2 separate regions of the Homo sapiens genome follow, and region 1 is linked to region 2. A link means that fine-mapping ties the variant in region 2 to the expression of a gene that starts in the linked region. Tissue or cell type: whole blood. Region 2 holds a variant in brackets; the other region holds the start of a gene. All regions are shown on one strand. Distances are between the middles of the regions.

What was found. PIP is the estimated chance that this variant, and not a neighbour inherited with it, causes the effect.
Region 1: it holds the start of CST7, and the variant in region 2 is the best candidate, but not a certain one, in a credible set for the expression of CST7 in whole blood (INTERVAL, PIP 0.84).

Annotation. Positions count from the first base shown.
Region 1 is chr20:24,944,153-24,954,879 of GRCh38, reverse strand. It overlaps CST7 (cystatin F), which reads right to left and starts at 5,611. Exons shown (of 4, transcript NM_003650.4): 1 at 5,305-5,611. The coding sequence starts at 5,374. RefSeq lists an enhancer at 5,896-5,945.
Region 2 is chr20:24,971,681-24,982,407 of GRCh38, reverse strand. APMAP (adipocyte plasma membrane associated protein) reads left to right here. Exons shown (of 9, transcript NM_020531.3): 3 at 3,526-3,641; 4 at 8,671-8,763. It also overlaps the pseudogene RNU6-1257P. Among named protein-coding and RNA genes, the nearest start is that of APMAP, 16 kb to the left of the region's middle. RefSeq lists enhancers at 1,261-1,761, 2,523-3,023. The variant T/C (reference allele first, on the strand shown) is at 6,349.

The DNA.
Region 1 (10,727 bases), 28 kb after region 2:
AAAGCTAACCACTATTAACTTTTTTAAAAAATAAAATGTATTTACTTTTGCTTGAGATTAACAGAATTTTAAAAATGAAGTGAAACTCAGTTTACGCTGAACTTCAAATAAATTTCCCTTCCAAGCTCATGACGTTAGTTCCTAAAAGATTGTGGTAAAGTTACAAAAAGGTTATGAAAAATACTGAAATTGGTATTTTTTATTTAACTACATGTTTCCTAAAATGTAGGCTTCAAGTCAATAAACCTTTCACTGTCTTACAGTTGTCTAAACAGATATTAAAAGCTCAGTTTTTAATTTAAAATTGTTTAAAAGTCAAACCTATTTTTAGGATGATTTGTTTAGAGAAATTAACAAGGAAATGTTGATCATTAAGAATTAACACCCCAAAGAGGCCACTCATCTTCAGGGAAGAAAACAAGCAGTCCAGCAGGTGGTGAGCGAATGCAGCTCTTTGAGAGCCTCCGATGGAGTCAAGGAACTGTGAAGAGGACCCCCCAGGGAGGGGGCTCTGGGTTTGCTCCGTGCAACTGAAGGCAGGGAGCGGGAGAATGGGTGCTCTCCTCCTCTGCCTGCTCTGTCTGGAGGGCCCTGCGATGCTGTTTCTTCTCATGTGTGCCCATTCTGCAGGCGAGGAGACCAAGAGCTTGGAGTGCAGGGTGGGGGGCTAAACCCAGGTGTGACTAATTCGAAACACCACTCTCACTTTTTCCTCATTCAAGACGGACTGTTTGGCAGGTGCTAGGGGAGATGCAGGGTGGACTCTAAGACAGGCCCCGCCCACAGTGGTGGGGAGGCAGAGCAGGCCTGGGGCACAGGAGAGGACACCAACCTGAGGGTAAAATGGGTGAGCAGAGGGGCAGGGGATGGGGGAGCAGCTGCAAGGTGGCTGAACTGGCCTAGGGGAGGAGGGAGCTACGTGCTGGGAAGAGTTGGGGAGACCCCGCTGGAGGCTGCTGCTGGGTGCAGAGGGTGATGGTGGTGATGGCCGCGATGACGTCAACGGAAAGAACCCACGGACCGTCAGGCTTGTGAGAAGAAACAAAAGGCACATAAAATCCGTCTGTATAGAAACAATGCCTGGGGCAGGCCAGGCCTGCTCGAGGGGAATGGGGGACCTGCCATGTGCGAGGCTCGCACCAGGAGCCTGCCGGGGCAGCCTGACCCCAGCCCACCACTGCTTCTAATGCGGGGTGGGAGGGGAGGTGGGCCATGCCTGAGACAGGTAGGGAGCTTCCAGACGTAGAAGCTGGAGGTGAGGCAGGGGCGGGCAGGGCCTGATGATACCAGGTGCTGAGCAGGCCCCAGGACACATGGTCACAGGAAGGCAAATGAAACTGTCCCCTAAGGTTGACAAGAATTGCATGCCAGGTTCTGGACAGAAAGATACTCATAATTAAGCTTGAATCAGGCTGCTGCTGGCCCAAGATGTTTTTCAGATCCCAATTCCAGCAACCAGTTTGGAAACCCCCCACGGAGGAACAGGATCATCACGAAAATACAGCTTCTTCCTCTCCCTGTGCTGTGACATCACGCTGCCCCTTCCAGCTATCGAGCTCCAGAACCCTTAAAAACCCGGGCCCCAGCCTCCTCGGGGAGATGGATTTGAGTTTCCTCCATCTCCTTGTCTGGTGATCCTGCGATCACCCTGCTTTTCTGCTGCAGCCCCGTGTTTCTGAGCATCTACTGGCTGTGTGCATGGGGCAAAGTCCTGTCCGGGTGCCCGAGGACCAGTGTGCAATGGGGTGCAGATGTGAAGCTGCCAGGCCAGGGGAGTTGCCAGGGCCTCTGCCCAAGGCAGCAGGGAGCTGCAGTTTCTGACAGCTGCTGGGCATGCCCTGGGCAGGGTACGTTCCTGTCCTCAGAGCATAGGCCCAGTGGCAGAGCTGGCACTAAGCCAACCTGAGGAGAGAAAACATGGGCAGGGATCGCTGTGGTGGCACCAGGCAGACCCTTCCCACCTGCCTTTAGTAGGAAAATGGGTGGGCACAGCGGGGGCTGGCATTGCCCACCTCCTCCCTCTTTCAGGAGTGTTCTAGGTGTGGCCGGGAGGTTGGGAAGCCCCTGCTTGTGAAACCATCCCTGAGATGGGGACCTGGGTGCCGAGAGCTGGACGCAGATGGTCCCTGCTGGTGTCCCTCCCTGTGTCACCTCAGGGGGTGCCCTTTCCATGGGCCAGTACTGAGCTGGGTGGGGAGACCCTTTGAGAGGGGCCCCATCGGCCCCCATCACCCAGAGCATAAGGTCTGCATGGCTGTGCCTGAGCACTGGGGTGTTGGGGGGGTGCAAGTCCAGCTTAGAGGTGCTGGTGTTCACTCTGCCCACCTGGAGACGCTTCACCCCAAGCCCTCTCACATGACACCATCAAAATTCAGAGAGCCTGGGTCCTTGGGGCCACACCTGCCCGCTGTGCTCTTGGGTCTCTGCCTGATGGCTAATGGCGGAGTCTATCTTTTGAGGGCACACACATGCCCCTGGCACAGACAGGACACTGAGCTCTACCAGATCAGTCCCGACCTTAACCCACTGGGACACACCCGGAGTTTGAATTCCAGCTCTGCTTCTCACTGGCTGTATGATCTCAGGCAAGCTGCCTAACCTCTCTGAGCCTCCGTGTCCTCACCTGTAAAATGAGGATGCTGACGACAGTGAGAATATATGAGGCAACATACACGAAGCACTTGTCAATAAATGATGTGCAAAACTGTAATCATTATCAATATATCAAAATGCACATGGCCACAGCAGGGGTCTCAGGGCAAATGAATGCCCCCATTGGGAAAAACAAATCTTGCCACGTAGACGGTGGCTCAGCCTGCGGCAGCTCCCAGTGCTCCCCAGGAGGCAGGAGGTCCCCGGGCTGCAAGTGGTCTCTCTGCTACTGGGAAGTAAGGACTGACATCACCTTGCAGAGGGAAGCTGAAATGGCTCCCTGACCCCAGGGCCCCTGTCCAGGCAGATGGGCCGTTGCAGCTAGAGTGGAGGGGGCAGAGGATGACATGGCACCTGGCAGAGCTTCCCAGAAGAGATGCCCATCAGATTGAGAAAGAAACAGCCCTTTTCAAAAGGGTGGCGGAAGCCAGTGTGGCAATTTCCTAGGTTCTGAAAGCCTCAGGGAGGAGAGGTGCCCTGAGGGGCTCAGCGCTATGGTCTGTGCAGTTCAGTGCATGGGTGTGGAGAGAGGCCAGATGCTCAGACGGCACCACCCTTGGGGTCCCTGTTGCTTCCCCGCCCCCTACCCCCCTCAGTCATGAGGAAGGCTCTGTAATTTATTCTCAGAGGAGGCAGCGGAGGGGCTGTAGGAGTTGTGGAGTGGGGGCAGGACGCATGCTTGTGTCTGGGGCCCAGGTTCCCATCTCTTTTTTGCTGCTAGACTGGGGGCCTCCCAGCACCCTCCCTATACAGCCGAAGACTGAAGGCCCTTGCTGGAAGCACCAGAAATGATCACAGCGCCTGGGCAGGGTGCTGGGGGCTGTCACCAGCACAGTGGCAGAAGGGCCTGCACTAGACAGAGCAGGGGGCTGAGGCTGGCGGAGAGCACCCCATGCCCCATGTGCCTCCATGCCTGTGCCTTCCCCGAGCCACCTCTGTTCAGCCTCCCCAGGGCCGGAGACGGGGTGCAGTTATCTTCCCATTTCATGGATGGTAGGACTGAGGCTGAGGGCCCGCTCTGTGTGTGTGAACGTGGGCTCTGGAGCTTCTCTCTGGGGTTTGGTGGCTGACAGCAGGTCTGCTGAGAATGGAGGGAAAGGCTTGGTGCAGCATTACATACCAGCGAGGGGCCGGGAACACCACCCAGGAAAATGACGTTGCCAGCTGCCCAGCACATCGGCTCCCACGCCACCCTGTTATAGTCCCTAGCCTGCTCCGTGAGATGAGCAGAGCTCTGAAACCCCTCAGCAGTCAGTAGGTTTAATTAGATCCCAGGACACGCTAGGACAGCTGGCTCCATGTCCCCTCCAGGAGAGCCTTTTCTGAGGTGTGAGAACGAGCCACTTCTCTGGAGTGAACTTGCCTCTCTTCCCTGCTTCCCCCTTGGACCTTGGAGACACGAAGGGGCAGGGCACAGAATGGCAGCAGGCAGGCAGCACTGCATCAGGACAGGGCCAGGAGGAGAGGCCCCTGTGAGGCTGGGAAGCAGGTGGAGGGCTCCTTGCGTGAGCTAAGAAGGCTCCCAAGCTGGGAGGCAGGGCCGGGTATGCTGTCCCCAGCCTTCTGCCAGCCATGGGTCAGCTCCATGTTCGCTGAGCACTACCCAGAGCTGGTGGCGGTGGCATGTTCCCATCAGTGAGAGCAGAAGCTGCCCCCGGCCCCTCCTCCAGCCTGCCGTGTCCCCTTGGCTGCTCAGTCGCAGCGTCCGCCCTAGGCCAGGCCTGGGAGCTCGACACAGTGTCCCCCAGCATCACTGAGTCCTCAGTATCCTGACTCACCAGGAGGAGGTGAGAACCCTCCAAGAACCCCTTGGGTGCTCTGGAGCCATCCTCTTGTCAGTGGTCCTGCTGCACAGCCCCCACCTGGGCCCCTTTGGCCAGGCTCCAGCCCCCTTCTGTCCCTGTCTGCTGGGTGGGGGTCATATGACTTGAGCGGGTCACCTCAGCCCTCTGGTGCCAGCTTCCTGGTTGGTTAAATGAGGTGGGGGCCTCCCAAGTCCCCATCAGTATCCTGGTCTGATTCCTGTGCCAGGGAGGCCATGGCCCAGTTCCCTTTGGGGGAGAGCAGGTTGTCCCTGGCTGTGTGACTTGGGCAAATCACCTAGCCTGGCTGTGTCTCAGTTTCCCAGTGCACAGGCAGTGGCTCTTTCCTCCCTGTCCCCCCTCCCCCTGAGTGCTGACCCTCAGGGAGTGGATTTCAGGAAGGGTGAAAGAGTCTGATCGTTAGGGTCCCTGGAGCCAAGTCACAGGACAACAGCCAGCAGGAAGGAATGACAAGCCATCAGATAGAAGCGGCTAACCACAGGCATGTGGCTGCCCTGTCGCCTCCGTCCCGCAGAGGAGCTGCGGGAGACCTGCCTTACTTAGACCTTTCTCAGACCTCTGTGAAGAGCCAGAGAATAGAAGATGCTTCCCTTGCCCCTAGCCTTCTGGGGCAGCCCCCAAACCCTTCATCCCTGTAGCCTGCTACCCCCAAAGGTAGCTGCAGCCAGATGGAGCCCCTTGCCCCTCTCACCACTCCCAGCACCTCTCACCACCGCATGGTCCTGTGGGGGCTCCAAGCTAGGAAAGTGCCCTGGGGAAGACCCAAGGCACCAGTGGCCAATCTCAGGGAGAGACCCCCGGGGAGCGGACAGGGGAGAACGCCACTTACCTGGGGAAGGGCCCCCAGTGGTGCTCAAGACCAGGCAGCAGAAGGCCAGCAGAGTTCCAGCCGCTCGCATGGCTGCCCGGGTAGGGACAGTGCGGGGCAGTTGGGGGTGGCCGTGCAGTGCCTTCTCAGGCAGCATGGGGCAGTTGGAGGCAGTGGTTGGTGCCCGTGCCGAGCCTTCTTGGGTAGATGGCGCAGGGCAGGTGGGGGCAGTGGTCTGTGCCCGTGCCAATCCTTCTCAGGCAGCACGGGCCAGTGCCGGGCAATGGTTTGTGCCTGTGCTGAGCCTTCTTGGGCAGCATGGAACAGTGGGCTGTCCCAGCCCAGGGGCAGGTGCCAGGGCCACAGCATGGAACCCCACCCTGCAAACCACTGTGGGATGGGGCAGGGGCGGGGCTAGGGGGCTGCCTGCGTGGTGCTGGGGAGGGGAGTGTTTTGCTGCTGAATCATTTTGGCCAGAAGCTCTTCACCTTCAGATCTATCAGCCACAAAGCAACCGCTTCCTTTATAAAAGTTTCCGAGCAGCCGTCATTTGCTGGGGGAGGAGGAAGAGACATGAGACCCATGAGCAAATCCTGATGCAATGTTCTACCCCTGAGCCACACACGAAAGAGATGTTGCATGAAAAACATTAGCAGGAATTTTCAAAAGCAAAATCACTTGATTTTCCTTTTTCTTTTAATTACTTAAGTTCTGGGGTACATGTGCAGAACATGCAGGTTTGTTACATAGGTATACACGTGCCATGGTGGTTTGCTGCACCCATCAACCCATCATCTACATTAGGTATTTCTCCAAATGCTATCCCTCCCCTGGCCCCGGATCCCCAGATAGTCCTTGGTGTGTGATGTTCCCCTCCCTGTGTCCATGTGTTCTCATTGTTCAACTCCCACCTATGAATGAGAACATGCGGTGTTTGGTTTTCTGTTCTTGTGTTAGTTTGCTGAGAATGATGGTTTCCAGCTTCATCCATGTCCCTGCAAAGGACATGAACTCATCTTTTTTATGGCTGCATAGTATTCCATGGTGTATATGTGCCACATTTTCTTTATCCAGTCTACCATTGATGGGCATTTGGGTTGGTTCCAAGTCTTTGCTATTGTGACTAGTGCTGCAGTAAACATACGTGTGCATGTGTCTTTATAGTAGAATGATTTTTGAGTATATACCCAGTAATGAAATTGCTGGGTCAAATGGTATTTCTGGTTCTAGATCCTTGAGGAATCACCACACTGTCTTCCACAATGGTTGAACTAATTTACACTCCCACCAACAGTGTAAAAGCGTTCCTATTTCTCCACATCCTCTCCAGCATCTGTTGCTTCCTGACTTTTTAACGATCACCATTCTAACTGGCATGAGATGGTACCTCATTGTGGTTTTGATTTGCATTTCTCTAATGACCAGTGATGATGAGCGTTTTTTCATATGTTTCTTGGCTGCATAAATGTCTTCTTTTTAGTGTCTGTTCATATCCTTCACCCAATTTTTGATGGGGTTGTTTTTTTCTTGTCAATTGTTTAAGTTCCTTGTAGATTCTCGACATTAGCTCTTTGTCAAATGGATATATTGCAAAAATTTTCTCCCATTCTGTAGGTTGCCTGTTCACTCTGATGACAGTTTCTTTTGCTGTGTGGAAGTTCATTAGTTTAATTAGGTCCCATTTATCAATTTTGGCTTTTGTTGCTATTCCTTTTGGTGTTTTAGTCATGAAGTCTTTGCCCATGCCTATGTCCTGAATGGTACTGCCTAGGTTTTCTTCTAGGGTTTTTATGGTTTTAGGTCTTAAGTCCTTAATCCATGTTGAGTTAATTTTTGTATAAGGTGTAAGGAAGGGGTCCAGTTTCAGTTTTCTGCAAATGGCTAGCCAGTTTTCCCAACACCATTTATTAAATAGGGAATCCTTTCCCCATTGGTTGTTTTAGTCAGGTTTGTCAAAGATCAGGTGGTTGTTGATGTGTGGTGTTATTTCTGGGCTTCTGTTCTGTTCCATTGGTCTATATATCTGTTTTGGTACCAGTACCATGCTGTTTTGGTTACTGTAGGCTTGTAGTATGGTTTGAAGTCAGATAGCATGATGCCTCCAGCTTTGTTCTTTTTGCTTAGGATTGTCTTGGCTATGCAGGCTCTTTTTTGGTTCCCTATGAACTTTAAAGTAGTTTTTTCCAATTCTGTGAAGAAAGTCAATGATAGCTTGATGGGGGATATCACTGAATCTATAAATTACTTTGGGCAGTATGGCCATTTTCACAACATTGATTCTTCCTATCCATGAGCATGGAATGTTTTTCCATTTATTTGTATCCTCTCTTATTTCCTTGAACAGTGGTTTGTAGTTCTCCTTGAAGAGGTCCTTCACATCCCTTGTAAGTTGTATTCCTAGGTATTTTATTCTCTTTGTAGCAATTGTGAATGGGAGTTCACTTATAATTTCACTCTCTGTTTGTCTATTATTGGTGTATAGGAATGTTTGTGATTTTTGCACATTGATTTTGTATCCTGAGACTTTGCTGAAGTTGCTTATCAGCTTGTGGAGATTTTGGGCTGAGATGATGGGGTTTTCTAAATATACAGTCATGTCATCTGCAAACAGAGACAATTTGACTCCCTCTTTTCCTATTTGAATACTCTTTATTTCCTTCTCCTGCCTAATTGCCCTGGCCAGAACTTCCAACACTATGTTGAATAGGAGTGGTGAGAGAGGGCATCCTAGTCTTGTGCCAGTTTTCAAAGGGAATGCTTCAAGTTTTTGTCCATTCAGTATGATATTGGCTGTGGGTTTGTCATAAATAGCTCTTATTATTTTAAGATACAGTTCATCAAAACCTACTTTATTCAGAGTTTTTAGCATGAAGGGGTGTTGAATTTTGTTGAAGGCCTTTTCTGCATCTATTAAGATAATCATGTGGTTTTTCTCATTGGTTCTGTTTATATGCTGGATTACGTTTATTGATTTGCATATGTTGAACCAGCCTTGCATTCCAGGTATGAAGCTGACTTGATCATGGTGGATAAGTTTTGATGTGCTGCTGGATTCAGTTTGCCATATTTTATTGAGGATTTTCACATTGATGGGACATCAGGGATATTGGCCTGAAATTTTCTTTTTGTTGTGTTTCTGCCAGGTTTTGGTATTAGGATGATGCTGGCCTCATAAAATGAGTTAGGGAGGATTCCCTCTTTTTCTCTTGTTTGGAATAGTTTCAGAAGGAATGGTAGCAGCGCCTCTTTGTACCTCTGGTAGAATTCAGCTGTGAATCCATCTGGTCCTGGACTTTTTTTTGGTTGGTAGGCTATTAATTACTGCCTCAATTTCAGAACTTGTTATTGATCGATTCAGGGATTCGACTTCTTCCTGGTTTAGACTTGGGAGGGTGTGTGTGTCCAGGAATTTACCCATTTCTTCTAGATTTTCTAGTTTATTAGTTTAGAGGCATTTACAGTATTCTCTGATGGTAGTTTGTATTTCTATGGGATCACTGGTGATATCCCCTTTATCATTTTTTATTGCATCTATTTGATTCTTCTCTCTTTTCTTCTTTATTAGTCTTGCTAGTGGTCTATCTATTTTGTTGATCTCTTCAAAACACCAGCTCCTTGATTCATTGATTTTTTGAAAGGTTTTTCATGTCTCTATCACTTTCAGTTCTGCTCTGATCTTAGTTATTTCTTGTCTTCTGCTAGCTTTTGAATTTGTTTGCTCATGCTTCTTTAGTTCTTTTACTTGTGATGTTAGGGTGTCAATTTTAGATCTTTCCTGCTTTCTCTTGTGGGCATTTAGTGCTATAAATTTCCCTCTACACACTGCTATAAATGTGTCCTAGAGATTCTGGTACATTGTGTCTTTGTTCTGATTGGTTTCAGAGAACATCTTTATTTCTGCCTTAATTTCATTATGTACGCAGTAGTCATTCAGGAGCAGGTTGTTCAGTTTCCATGTAGTTGTTCAGGTTTGAGTGAGTTTCTTAATCCTGAGTTCTAATTTGATTGCACTGTGGTCTGAGAGACTGTTTGTTATGACTTCCATTCTTTAGTATTTGCTGAGGAGTGTTTTACTTCCAATTATGTGGTCAATTTTAGAATAAGTGCAATGAGATGCTGAGAAGAATGTATATTCTGTTGATTTGGGGTGGAGAGTTCTGTAGATGTCTATTAGGTCTGCATGGTCCAGAGCTTAGTTCAAATCCTGAATATCCTTATTAATTTTCTGTCTCATTGTTATAATATTGACAGGGTGTTAAAATCTCCCATTATTATTGTGTGGGAGTGTAGGTCTCTTTGTAGGTCTCTAAGAACTTGCTTTATGAATGTAGGTGCTTCTGTATTGGGTGCATGTATATTTAGGATAGTTAGTTCTTCTTGTTGAATTAATACCTTTACCATTATGTAATACCCTTCTTTGTCGTTTTTGATCTTTGTTGGTTTGAAGTCTGTTTTATCAGAGACTAGGATTGCAACCCTTGCTTTGTTTTTGGTTTCCATTTGCTTGGTAAATATTCCTCCATGTATTTATTTTGAGCCTATTTGTGTCTTCGCATGTGAGATGGGTCTCCTGAACACAGCACACCAATGAGTCTTGACTCCATTCAATTTGCCAGTCTGTGTCTTTTAATTGGGGCATTTAGCCCATTTACATTTATGGTTAATATTATTATTATGATTTTGATCTTGTCATTATGATGCTAGCTGGTTATTTTGCCCATGAGTTGATGCAGTTTCTTCATCGTGTCAATGGTCTTTACAATTTGATATGTTTTTGCAGTGGCTGGTACCAGCTGTTCCTTTCCATGTTTAGTGCTTCCTTCAGGAGCTCTTGTAAGGCAGGCCTGGTGGTGACAAAATCTCCCAGCATTTGCTTGTCTGTAAAGGATTTTATTTCTCCTTCACTTATGAAGCTTAGTTTGGCTGGATATGCAATTCTGGGTTGAAAATTCTTTTCTTTAAGAATGTTGAATATTGGCCCCCACTGTCTTCTGGCTTGTAGGGTTTCTGCAGAGAGATCTGCTGTTAGTCTGATGGGTTTTCCTTTGTGGGTAACCCAACCTTTCTCTCTGGCTGCCCTTAACATTTTTCCTTCATTTCAAGCTTGGTGAATCTGATGATTATGTGTCTTGGGGCTGCTGTTCTCAAGGAGTATCTTTGTGGTGTTGTCTATATTTCCTGAATTTGAATGTTGGCCTGTCTTGCTAGGTTGGGGCAGTTATCCTGGATAATATCCTGAAGAGTGTTTTCCAGCTTGGTTCCATTCTCCCTGTCACTTTCAGGTACACCAATCAAATGTAGATTTGGTCTTTTCACATAGTCCCATATTTCTTGGAGGCTTTGTTTATTCCTTTTCATTCCTTTTGCTCTCATCTTGTCTTCTTGCTTTATTTCATTAAGTTGATCCTCAATTTCTGATATCCTTTCTTCCACTTGATTGATTT
Region 2 (10,727 bases):
GGAAGAGAAGCAGTGGAACCGCTGCAGCCAACAGGGACCTCTCTCCTGGGCTCAGCTTTCGGAATGGCAGTGGAACCATCACAGCCAACAGGGACCTCTCTCCTGGGCTCAGCTTTCGGAATGGCAGTGGAACCATCACAGCCAACAGGGACCTCTCTCCTGGGCTCAGCTTTTGGAATGGCAGTGGAACTGTCACAGCCAACGGGTCTCTCTCTCTCTCCTGGGCTCAGCTTTCAGAATGGCAGTGGAACCATCACAGCCAACAGGGACCTCTCTCCTGGGCTCAGCTTATGGCATTGGAATCACAGCCAACAGGGGCCTCTCTCCTGGGCTCTGCTTTTGGCATGGCACACTCAAAAACAGGAAGATAGGCCCCAAAATGCAGAGCAGAAGCAGAAGCCTGGTACATGACAGAGCTTGGTGTGTCTCATGCAAGAACGTGGCCACAACACAGGCCATGCCCCATGCACGCCATCCCAGCGGGTGCTGACTCAGCTGCAGCCCTCTCAGCCCACAGTCACTCTGTGGAAGGACATGGTTTCTCTCCAGAAGGGAACAAAAAGTTTATTTTTCATAGAAGGATATGAATGTTTCTAGTCACTGAAAAAATATCAGTTAAAGTCAAATTTATGGTAAAAAAAAATAGAGCAGCATTTTGGAGAATGGATTTGGTTGCTATAATTTTAAAGACCAACAGAAAGAGTAATTCTACTGGGAGTTGAAAGTTGCAGTACTGTTAGAAGTACACATTTTACTATCGGGTGAAACTGTCAAACTGAGAGATATTAAAAAATAGCAACAACCTTTATGGGTGGTCTGGGACATCAAGAGCAAATAGAAGCACTGTATAAAACTCAGGCAGGGCCAACAGGAGACCCGCTGGGGAGGGAGAGAGCAGTGCCCCACACCCTGGCTTCCTGTGTTAGGGAGAGAGATGTGGGGGACCTCAGAGAGCTGGTTCTCAGAAGTGCTTAGGAAAACCTTTGTGCAGTCTGTGGGTCACAGTGGGTCACTTCTCTGCAGTTGAGTATTACTGCATTAGTGCAGGCTTTCTTCACTTGTGCCAGCCATCCGTGATCATACAGATGCCCTGTTACTCTGTTCACATCTCCCCACGTTGTCACAGGGATCTTGAAAACTACTCTGTACATGCTATAGGAATCAGGATGTCATATATGCTGTGTCTATGACAGCCCTCTAATCTTCCCAGAAAGAAGGGAAAGTGACTTTGCAGGGCAGGTTTTTGGCAAAGCCCTGCAGCCTTCCTGGTGATTTTGTTCTCAAGTACTGAAACCAGCTGTGTAATAGTCCAGACTGGAAGAGCGACCATCCTTCTCTTTGTCCCTCCATACTCCTGGTCTGCCTGTTCTCTGATTTTTTAGAGATTTCTAAGTGTGGTCTAAGCTCTCACGGGAGTGATGTAGTATCCTGGGTAGACTCCCAAACACCCGTCCATCAGCTGAGTGGCCGTTTCTGCCCCGTCTGCTGGCCTGATCCTCTTGACCATGGTGGCCCTGCGCTGCCTGGCGTGTAGAGGTGATGGAGGCCGAGCGAAGCTGGCAGCTCTGCTTGTCATCGTGGCATGGCCTCTTGACCATGGTGACCCCACACTGCCCGGTGTGTAGAAGTGACCGAGGCCGAGCGAAGCTGGTAGGTCTGCTTTTGTCATTGTGGCATGGCCTCTTGACCATGGTGACGCCACGCTGCCCAGTGTGTAGAGGTGACAGAGGCTGAGCGAAGCTGGTAGGTCTGCTTTTGTCATGGTAGCATGGCCTCTTGACTGTGGTGGCCCTGCACTGCCCGGCGCGTAGAGGTGACCGAGGCCAAGCGAAGCTGGTAGGTCTGCTTTTGTCATCGTGGCATAGCCTCTTGACCATGGTGGCCCCGCGCTGCCCAGCGTGTAGAGGTGACCGAGGCCGAGCATGGCCTCTTGACTATGGTGACCCCATGCTGCCCGGCGTGTTGAGGTGACCGAGGCCGAGCGAAGCTGGCAGCTCTGCTTGTCATCGTAGCATGGCACCAATTGCCCCAGGTGGGGTTTCCCTTCCTTCCTCTTTTGCTGTGAAGAGAGCTTTAAAGAAGCTCTTTTTGCTGTTGTCATAAACTTTTCCCCAACGCTTAGCTCCTTCCTGTTCTTGAATTCTCTGCCTTGCTGGAGGCAGGGGACAGGGGATAATCGGAAGATATTCCTCTCTACTTTGGTTTCCTCCAGCAGTGCTCGTTGGGAGCCTTCTGTGTGCCATGTTGGGTGCCAGATGCTGGGAATACAGTAGAGAAAAACACAGAAAGAAATCCCTGATCTCATGGAGCGTATGTTCTAGTGGGGACAAACAGACCATAAACATAACAGAAGCAGATCACACAGTGCATGAGAAGCTGGTGTGTGCTATGAGGAGCATGGAGTAGGGCAGGGGCCTGGGTTCGGGGGAGGTATCGGATATTTAGTTGGGTGGTCAGAGTGGGCCTCCTGGGTGGGGGATGGTTGCTGTTCCAAGTGGAGCAAAGAGCTGGTGTGAAGGCCCTGGATAGGGAGATGCTGGTGTGGTTAGGACCCAGCAGGGAGGGGCTGGTGTGAGGGATGCAGAAGGCACAAGGGAGAGAGGGGGCAAGAAGGTGCTGTGGCCAGGTTGCGGTGCTCAGAGGCTGCTGCCAGGACTTGGCTCTAGGTGAGAGGGGGCCATTGTGGGGCTCTGAATAGAGGAAGGTCATGATCCGGCATGGCTGCTGGATTGAGAATAGACTACAGGGGTCAAGGGAGGGAGCAGGGGCGAGGCGAGAGGATGGTGGCCCCAGCCAGGGTTGTAAGGAGGACATGGGGAGACGGGTTCAATGGTGTCTTTTCAAAGTGGCCTCAGCAGAACTTGATGGTGGGTTGGGAGGCGTGACATACTGGCATGTGGATGGGAAGGACGAGTAGAGGCAGGAGTTTCTGGAGCCGTGTCTGTGAGTAGAAGGGCTCCAGGGCCCAGCTCAGGCTCCTGCTTCAGGAAGAGCCTGGTGGGCCTCGAGAATATCAGCGGGAGGTGGCGTGCCCTGTGCTGGACCATGGGACGGTGGCTCCAGTCCCAGGAAGGTCTCCCCTTGCTCCTTCCATCTTCTCTGTGAAATACGAGGCCGGGTCATCAGGTGTGAAACGTGGGCACTGCCCCCCACCACCCTAGGTAGACTCCAGTGGCTGTAGGGCTGTGAGTCACAGGGGTGAGGAGGTCCAGCTGCCCTGAGGCATTGGATGGGGGTGGGGAGCTGGGGAGGCTGGAGGATGGGTGGGCACAGGCCTCAGGATGCTCTCAGGTGACAAGATTGCTGAAGGTCTTGCACTAGCACATTTATATTTTTATATTTCTTTTGTACCATGATGTTTTCTGATATCCTAGAACAGTTTTTTCTTAACCCTTGTATTTCTGGCAACTGAGGATGTTGTTAGAAAGTGCCATCTTTATCAAAGAACTGAGAGCAGGTGCTCGGTACACATTTTCTTCACATGTGTATTTATAGACAGATCTCTGGAATTGCATTATTTTGCAGCTTCAAAGAACCCCCGCTCTTGCTTGGTGTTCTGCATCCAAATACGAAGCTGCGACAGGCAGAAAGGCTGTTTGAAAATCAACTTGTTGGACCGGAGTCCATAGCACATATTGGGGGTAAGTCTAAGCTTGGGTGGGGGGGGAGCCTTCCAGGCTGTCTGTTGTCTGAGGGGGCGGGTTCTGTGGGAGCAGCTGCAGTGGCACGCTGCCCCTGGACTGGGGCCCTGCACATCCTTCTTAGCTGCGGACGTGGGACTTGGCCCTCAGACATCACATGGGAGGCCCTAGTGGCTCTTTCTGCTGGTCTCATCTGCCCAGTTTGCATGCCATTTTAGCACTGGGTGATTTTGAATTCATCTCTATGGAACACTTTGTTGTGCTCAAAGTGTTGTGAAAGGAAAAAGGCCAAATACAGATACTGATTTTTAGTTCATTTATCAAAGTTAAATAGCTATTTGACAGCACAGTATTTCTTAGTTCCATTTGCTTTGTATAGATTTCACTGTGATGAAGACAAATGGTTCTCAATATTTCCACTGTTTTTGTCTGACTGTTTGAAATCTCACCTTGATGGGTACACTTAAGGGTAACCATCTGCATCACACTTGCCCATGCCTCAGAACTAGAATTGGGTCTGGTTCTAATACTTGCATCTCTAGCAACCTTGAACAAGGCATTTTCTGTTTGTTAAAATGAGAATTAAGTTTAGTATTGGGAAGGCACAGATAGTCACAGATAGTTTAAAACTTAATCTGGTATGGGCTTGCTGAGCAGCTTCTTTGGAAGTGCCGCTTGTTATTCTGAAGCACACTGTTCTCCAGGCAGTGGGTGGCTGTGGATATGTGCACACAGGGTGCTTCTGTTGTGCTCTCAAGGCCGGTCAGTGGCCTCTCTTCTAGTGACGTTTGACCAGCTTCTCTTGCCTGGGCCCTGTTATTTGACACAGGCCCCAAGGACTGGTCCATTTCTGCAGTTGGTTTGTTTTCTTGGCTGTCAAAGTCAAAATTGTTTCAAGAAGAGTAAATATCATGATAGAACTTTGTATTTCTCTTAAAAAGACATTGGCATTTATTTGTGTAAATTTTAAAAGCTTTAGCTTTTTTTGGTGAAAAATCAAATCTTGCTCTTTAAAACTGAAACTTAACAGCAGTTGAAGTGCAAACCAATGATCTTACCTCCCAAAGAGAGCACTTTCCTGTCTTTTTCTTTTTCACTGGGTTACTTCTCATTGTACTTTGTCACCAGGTCCCAGCTTTTTCTCTTTCTTTGATGAGCTGGTGACATTTCTTGGCCAGGCACAGTGGGGTCCTCTCTGGTGGGTGTGAGCCGCAGGGACCTGCCACTGCTGTCTCTGCCACCTCATTTGGAAGCTGTCCTGGGGGCTGGCTGGCAGGTTGCTGACAGTGGAAGGAGGTACTAGCTCTGGGGAGTGCTGGGAGAGAGTAACCACCAACTATAGCAGGCTTTATTTTATTTGTTTTTAAGTAGACTTTATTTTTAAGAGCAGTTTTAGGTTCACAGCAAAATTGAGCAGAAGGTACAGAGATTTTCTGAAAAAGAGTTTTTATTACGATTGGGTGTTGCATTTCGTCAAATACTTTTTCTGCACACATGCCATGCACAGCCTCCCACATGATCAACATCCCCCACCACAAGGGTAAGTTTGTTACAAGTGATGTACTCACATCAATACGTCAATAGTACTCGGAGTCTGTAGTTTACGGTAGGGTTCACTCTTGGTTTTATACATTCTATGGGTTTGGACAAATGCCATGTATCCACTGTTATGGTATCTTACAGGGTGTTTTCACTGCCCTGAAAATCCTCTTTGCTCTGCCTGTTCATTCCACCCTTTTCTTTTAACCCATGGCAACCACTGATCTTTTTGCCATCTCCATAGTTTTGCCTTTTCCAGAATGTTATGTAGCTGGACTCATACAGTATGTAGCCTTTTCAGATTGGCATCTTTCACTTAGTAGTATGCATTTATTTAAAATTCCTCCATGTCTTTCCATGGGTTGATAGCTCATTTCTTTTTAGCACTGAGTAATATTCCATTGTATGGATGTGCCACAGTTTAGTTACCTACTGAAGTACATCTTGGTTGCTGCTAAGTTTTGGCAGTTATGAATAAGGCTGGTATAAACATCTGTGGGCAGGTTTTTGTGTGGACCTAAGTTTTCAGCTCATTTGGGTAAATACCGAAAAGCATAATTGCTGGATTGTATGGTAAGAGTTAAGTTTTGTAAGAAACCACCAAGCGTTTCCAAAGTGGCTGTACCATTTGCCTTCCCATTAACAATTAGTGAGAGTTCCTGATGCTCCATGTCCTCGCCAGCATTTGGTGGTGTCAGTGTTTTGGATTTTGGCCCTTTTAATAGGTGTATAGTGGTGTCTCGTTGTTTTAATTTGCATTTCTCTGATGATATTTGATGTGGAATATCTTCATATGCCTACCTGCCATCTGTATATCTTCTTGGTGATGTGTCTGTTCAGGCCTTTTGCCCATTTTTGTAATTGGGTTGTTCATTTTCTTATTGTTGAGTTTTAAGAGTTGTTTGTGTATTTTGGATAATAGTTCTTTATCAGACATGTTGTTTGCCAATATTTTCTCCAGTCTGTGGCTTCTCATTCTTTTGACAGTATCTTCTGTAGAGCAAGAGTTTTTAATTTTAATGAAGTTTCACTTATTAATTATTTCTTCATGTATCTCACCTTGGTTTTATATCTAAAAATTCATCATCATACCCTAGGTGTTATATCTAAAAATTCATCATCATACCTAGATTTTCTCCTATGTTCTAGGAATTTGTTTTGTATTTTA[T/C]ATTTAGGTCTATGATCCATTTTGAATTCCATTTTTGTGAAGGGTATAAGGTTTGTGTCTAGATTTATTTGTTTGCATGTGGATGCAAACAAATTTGTTCCAGCACCATTTGTGGAAAACACTGTCTTTTCTCCATTATGCATTGCCTTTACTCCTTTGTCAAAAGATCAGTTGATTGTATTTATGTGGGTCTGTCTCTGGGCTAAAAATTTTATCTGTTCTATTGATTTATTTTTCTATTCTTTTGCTAATACCACATTGTCTTGATTACTGTAGCTTTATAGAGAATCTTGAAGTTGAGTAGTTTCAGTCCTCTGACTTTATTCTTTTCCTTCAATATTGTATTGGATATTTTGAGTCTTCGCCCTCTCCATATGAACTTTAGGATTCATTTGTCTGTATCTACAAAATAACTTGCTGGGATTTTGATTGGGATTGCATTGAATCTATAGATTAAGGTTGGGAAAAACTGACATCTTGACAATATTGAGTATTCCTGTCCATGAACATGGAATATCTCTCCATTTATTTAGTTCTTTGATTTCTTTCATCAGAATATTCTAGTTTTCCTCATATAGACCTCGTGTATATTATATTATATTTATACCTAAGTATGCCAATCTTTTGGATGCTAATGTACATAGTATTGTGTTTTCAATTCCAAATTCCATTTGTTCATTGTTAGTATAAAGGAAGGTGAGTCAATATCTTGCAATATCCTGCAACCATGCTATAATTGCTTGGTTCCAGGAGGGTTTTTTGTTGTTGTTGATTCTTTCAGATTTTCTATCTAGACAATTATGTCACTTGCAAACAAAGAAAGTTTTATTTCTTTCTTCTCAATCTGTATACCTTTTGTTTCCTTTTCATGTCTTACTGCATTAGCTAGGTCTTCAAGTATGATACTGAAAAGGAGTGGTGATAGGGGCATCTTTGCCTTGTTCTTGATCTTAGCAGGAAAGCTTCTAGTTTGTCATCCATAAGTATGATGTTATATGTAGATTTTTTTATAGATATTCTTGATCAAGTTAAGAAAGTTTCCCCTCTACTCCCAGCTTGCTGAGAGTTTTTAATCATGAATGGGTGTTGGATGTTACTAGATGTTTTTTTCTGTATCTGTTGATATGATCATGTGATTATTCTTGTTTAGATTGTTGAAGTCTCTAACTGTGATAGTGGATTCTGTTTCTCCTTGCAGTTTCATCAGTTTTTGCCTCACATATTGGTGCTCTATTGTGAAGCATATACACATTAAAGGTTCTTATGTTTTTTTGAGGCATTGACCCCTTTGTCATTGTGTGATGCTCCTCTTTATCCCTGATAACTTTCCTTGGTCTGAAGTGTTCTCTGTCTGAATTTAATACAGCTATTCTGGGTTGCTTTTGGTTAGTGTTAACATGATGTACTTTCTTCATCCCTTCACTTTTAATCTATATATGTCTTTATATTTAAAGTGGGTTTCTTGTACACAACATAGAGTTGGGTCTTGTTTTTTGAATAATTCTGGCAATGTCTCTCTTTCAGTTGGTATATTTAGACCATTTATGTTTAAAGTGATTATTGATATATTGGATTAATATCTACCGTATTTGTTACTGTTTTCTATTCTTTGCCCTTATTCTTTGTTTCTATTTTTGCATTCTACTCTCTTTTTGTCTTTTGTAGTTTTAAACTGAGTATTTTATATGATTCCATTTTCTCTCCTTTCTTAGCATATCAGTTATACTTCTTTTTTTTACTTTTTGTAGTGGTTACCCTTGAGTTTGCAATATACATTTGAAAACTATGGAATGTTTTATGAATTTGTGTATCATCATTGCTCAAGGGGCATGCTAGTAGTCTTCTCTGTATCATTCTAATTTTAGTATATGTGCTGCTGAAGTAAGCACTTAATGTGCTGTAATTTTCTTCTAAAGGATTTCTGGCAGTTCTTCTCCTTTAGTTGGATATAATCAATATCAGCAGCAGACACTGATGTGAGGTGAATATGAACTCATGCCCCTAAGTGCTGAGTGTCAGCTTGAGTGCTTCAGGACTGGAGAAAATCCTCACAGTTCTCATCACTGACTGGTATCTGCTGCACCCTTGCTTTTGAGTCAGGTTCATGCCCACAGGCTGCTTCCCTAGGCCCCCGCAGTTTTATCACTGTAAGTTTTAAGGATTTTTCATATTCCCAGAAATTGCTTCTCTTCCATCTTGAGAATTGGCATTTCCTCTATAGGGCAGGGGGAACATGTAAACAAGCCCTCTTGTAGGAGAAGGCGGCTTAGTCACATTTCTTAGGCTAACATTGCTCTTCCTCCTTTTTGTGTTTTTAAACAGATGTGATGTTTACTGGGACAGCAGATGGCCGGGTCGTAAAACTTGAAAATGGTGAAATAGAGACCATTGCCCGGTTTGGTTCGGGCCCTTGCAGTAAGTTGGTGATAATCCCTCGATGTGTCTCTTCCAGTCTTTCAGAAAGATGTTGGATCGTTGTGTGGAACTGCTTTTCCCTAGAATGCCTGTGGGAGAAAAAGAACCTCTGACCATCTAGTAGATGGAACATGACGTCACTACGAGCTCTTCATTTGCCGGGTGGTCCTTGGGCCTCACGGTGCCTGATGGTCACCTACAGTCCCCATTTTGCAGCTGGGTAGTGGCTGTGGCCCCTGCTTGGTACTGCATGGGCCTCGCCCCTCACCATTTTATTGGGGTCCCCGTTTACCTTTGCGGTACTTCAGAGGCTAATAGGTGTTATCACAGTGCTGCTGTGGAAAAGTAGGTGGCCTTGTCATTACTTGGATGTGTAAGTGTTATTCTGCCTTGGTCTCAGGAATTTCAGCCCTGTAAGTGAGAATACCCTTAAGTCATTCAAATTTTGGAAAACTAGAGTAGAAGACTCACTGTTTAAAACTGATAGTCTATAGACTTAATAGTTATCATTTTTTAATAGCTGGAATGTTTTTATTAAAGTGATGTATTTTCATAAACACAAACAACACAAAGGTACAAAGGAGAAAATAAAAATCACCTGAGTCTTTTCAGATGTAATTGTTATGAACATTTTAGTGGTTCACTTTTCAGACATCTTTTTGTTCATGGACATGCACACCCACACGTATGATGGAATTATACCCTACATCAGTTCTTTAACCTGCCTTTTTCCGTGCCATTTTGGCAGTAAGCACCCTGCAGTGAGCATCCCACAGTGAACACCCTGCAATAAGCATTTGCAGTGAGCACCCATGGTCAGCACCTACAATAGCACCTGGAGTGATCACCCATGGTGAGCACCCTACAGTAAGCACCTGCAGTGAGCACCCCACAGTGAACACCCTGCAGTAAGCACCTACAGTGAGCACCTATAGTGAACACCTGCAGTGGTACTTGCAATGAGCACCCTACAGTTAATGACCCACAAAAGCACCTGTAGTGAGCACCCTGCAATAAGCACCTGTAGTGAGCACCCCACAGTGAACACCCTGCAATAAGCACCTGTAGTGAGCACCTTCAGTGAGGACCCCACAGTGAACACCTTGCAATAAGCATCTGCAGTGAACACCCCACAGTGAACTCCCTGCAGTAAGCCCCTGCGGTGAGCACCCCACAGTGACCACCCTGCAATAACACCCTGCAATAAGCGCCTGCAGTGAGCACTCCACTTGAACACCCTGCAGTAAGCACCTGCAGTGAGTACCTCACAGTGAACACCCTGCAATAAGCACCTGCAGTGAGCACCCCACAGTGAACATCTTGCAATAAGCCCCTGTGGTGAGCACCCCACAGTGAACACCCTGCAATAACACCCTGCAATAAGCACCTGCAGTGAGCACTCCACTTGAACACCCTGCAGTAAGCACCTGCAGTGAGTACCTCACAGTGAACACCCTGCAATAAGCACCTGCAGTGAGCACCCCACAGTGAACACCTTGCAATAAGCACCTGCAATGAGCACCCCACAGTGAACACCCTGCAATAACCACCTGCAGTGAGCACCCCACAGTGAACACCCTACAATAAGCACCTGCAGTGAGCACTCTACACAAACACCCTGCAGTAAGCACCTGTAGTGAGCACCCCACAGTGAACACCCTGCAGTAAGCACCTGCAGTGAGCACCCTGCAATAAGCACCTGCAGTGAGTACCCCACAGTGAACACCCTGCAATAAGCACCTGCAGTGAGCACCTCACAGTGAACACCCTGCAATAAGCAACTGTAGTGAGCACCCTGCAATAAGCACCTGCAGTGAACACCCCACAGTGAACACCCTGCAGTAAGCACCTACAGTAAGCACCCTGCAGTGAGCACCCCACAATGAACACCTTGCAATAAGCACCTGCAGTGAGCACCTGCAGGGCAGTTGTAGCTCTAATGCCATGGTCTTGTCTTGTTCTGT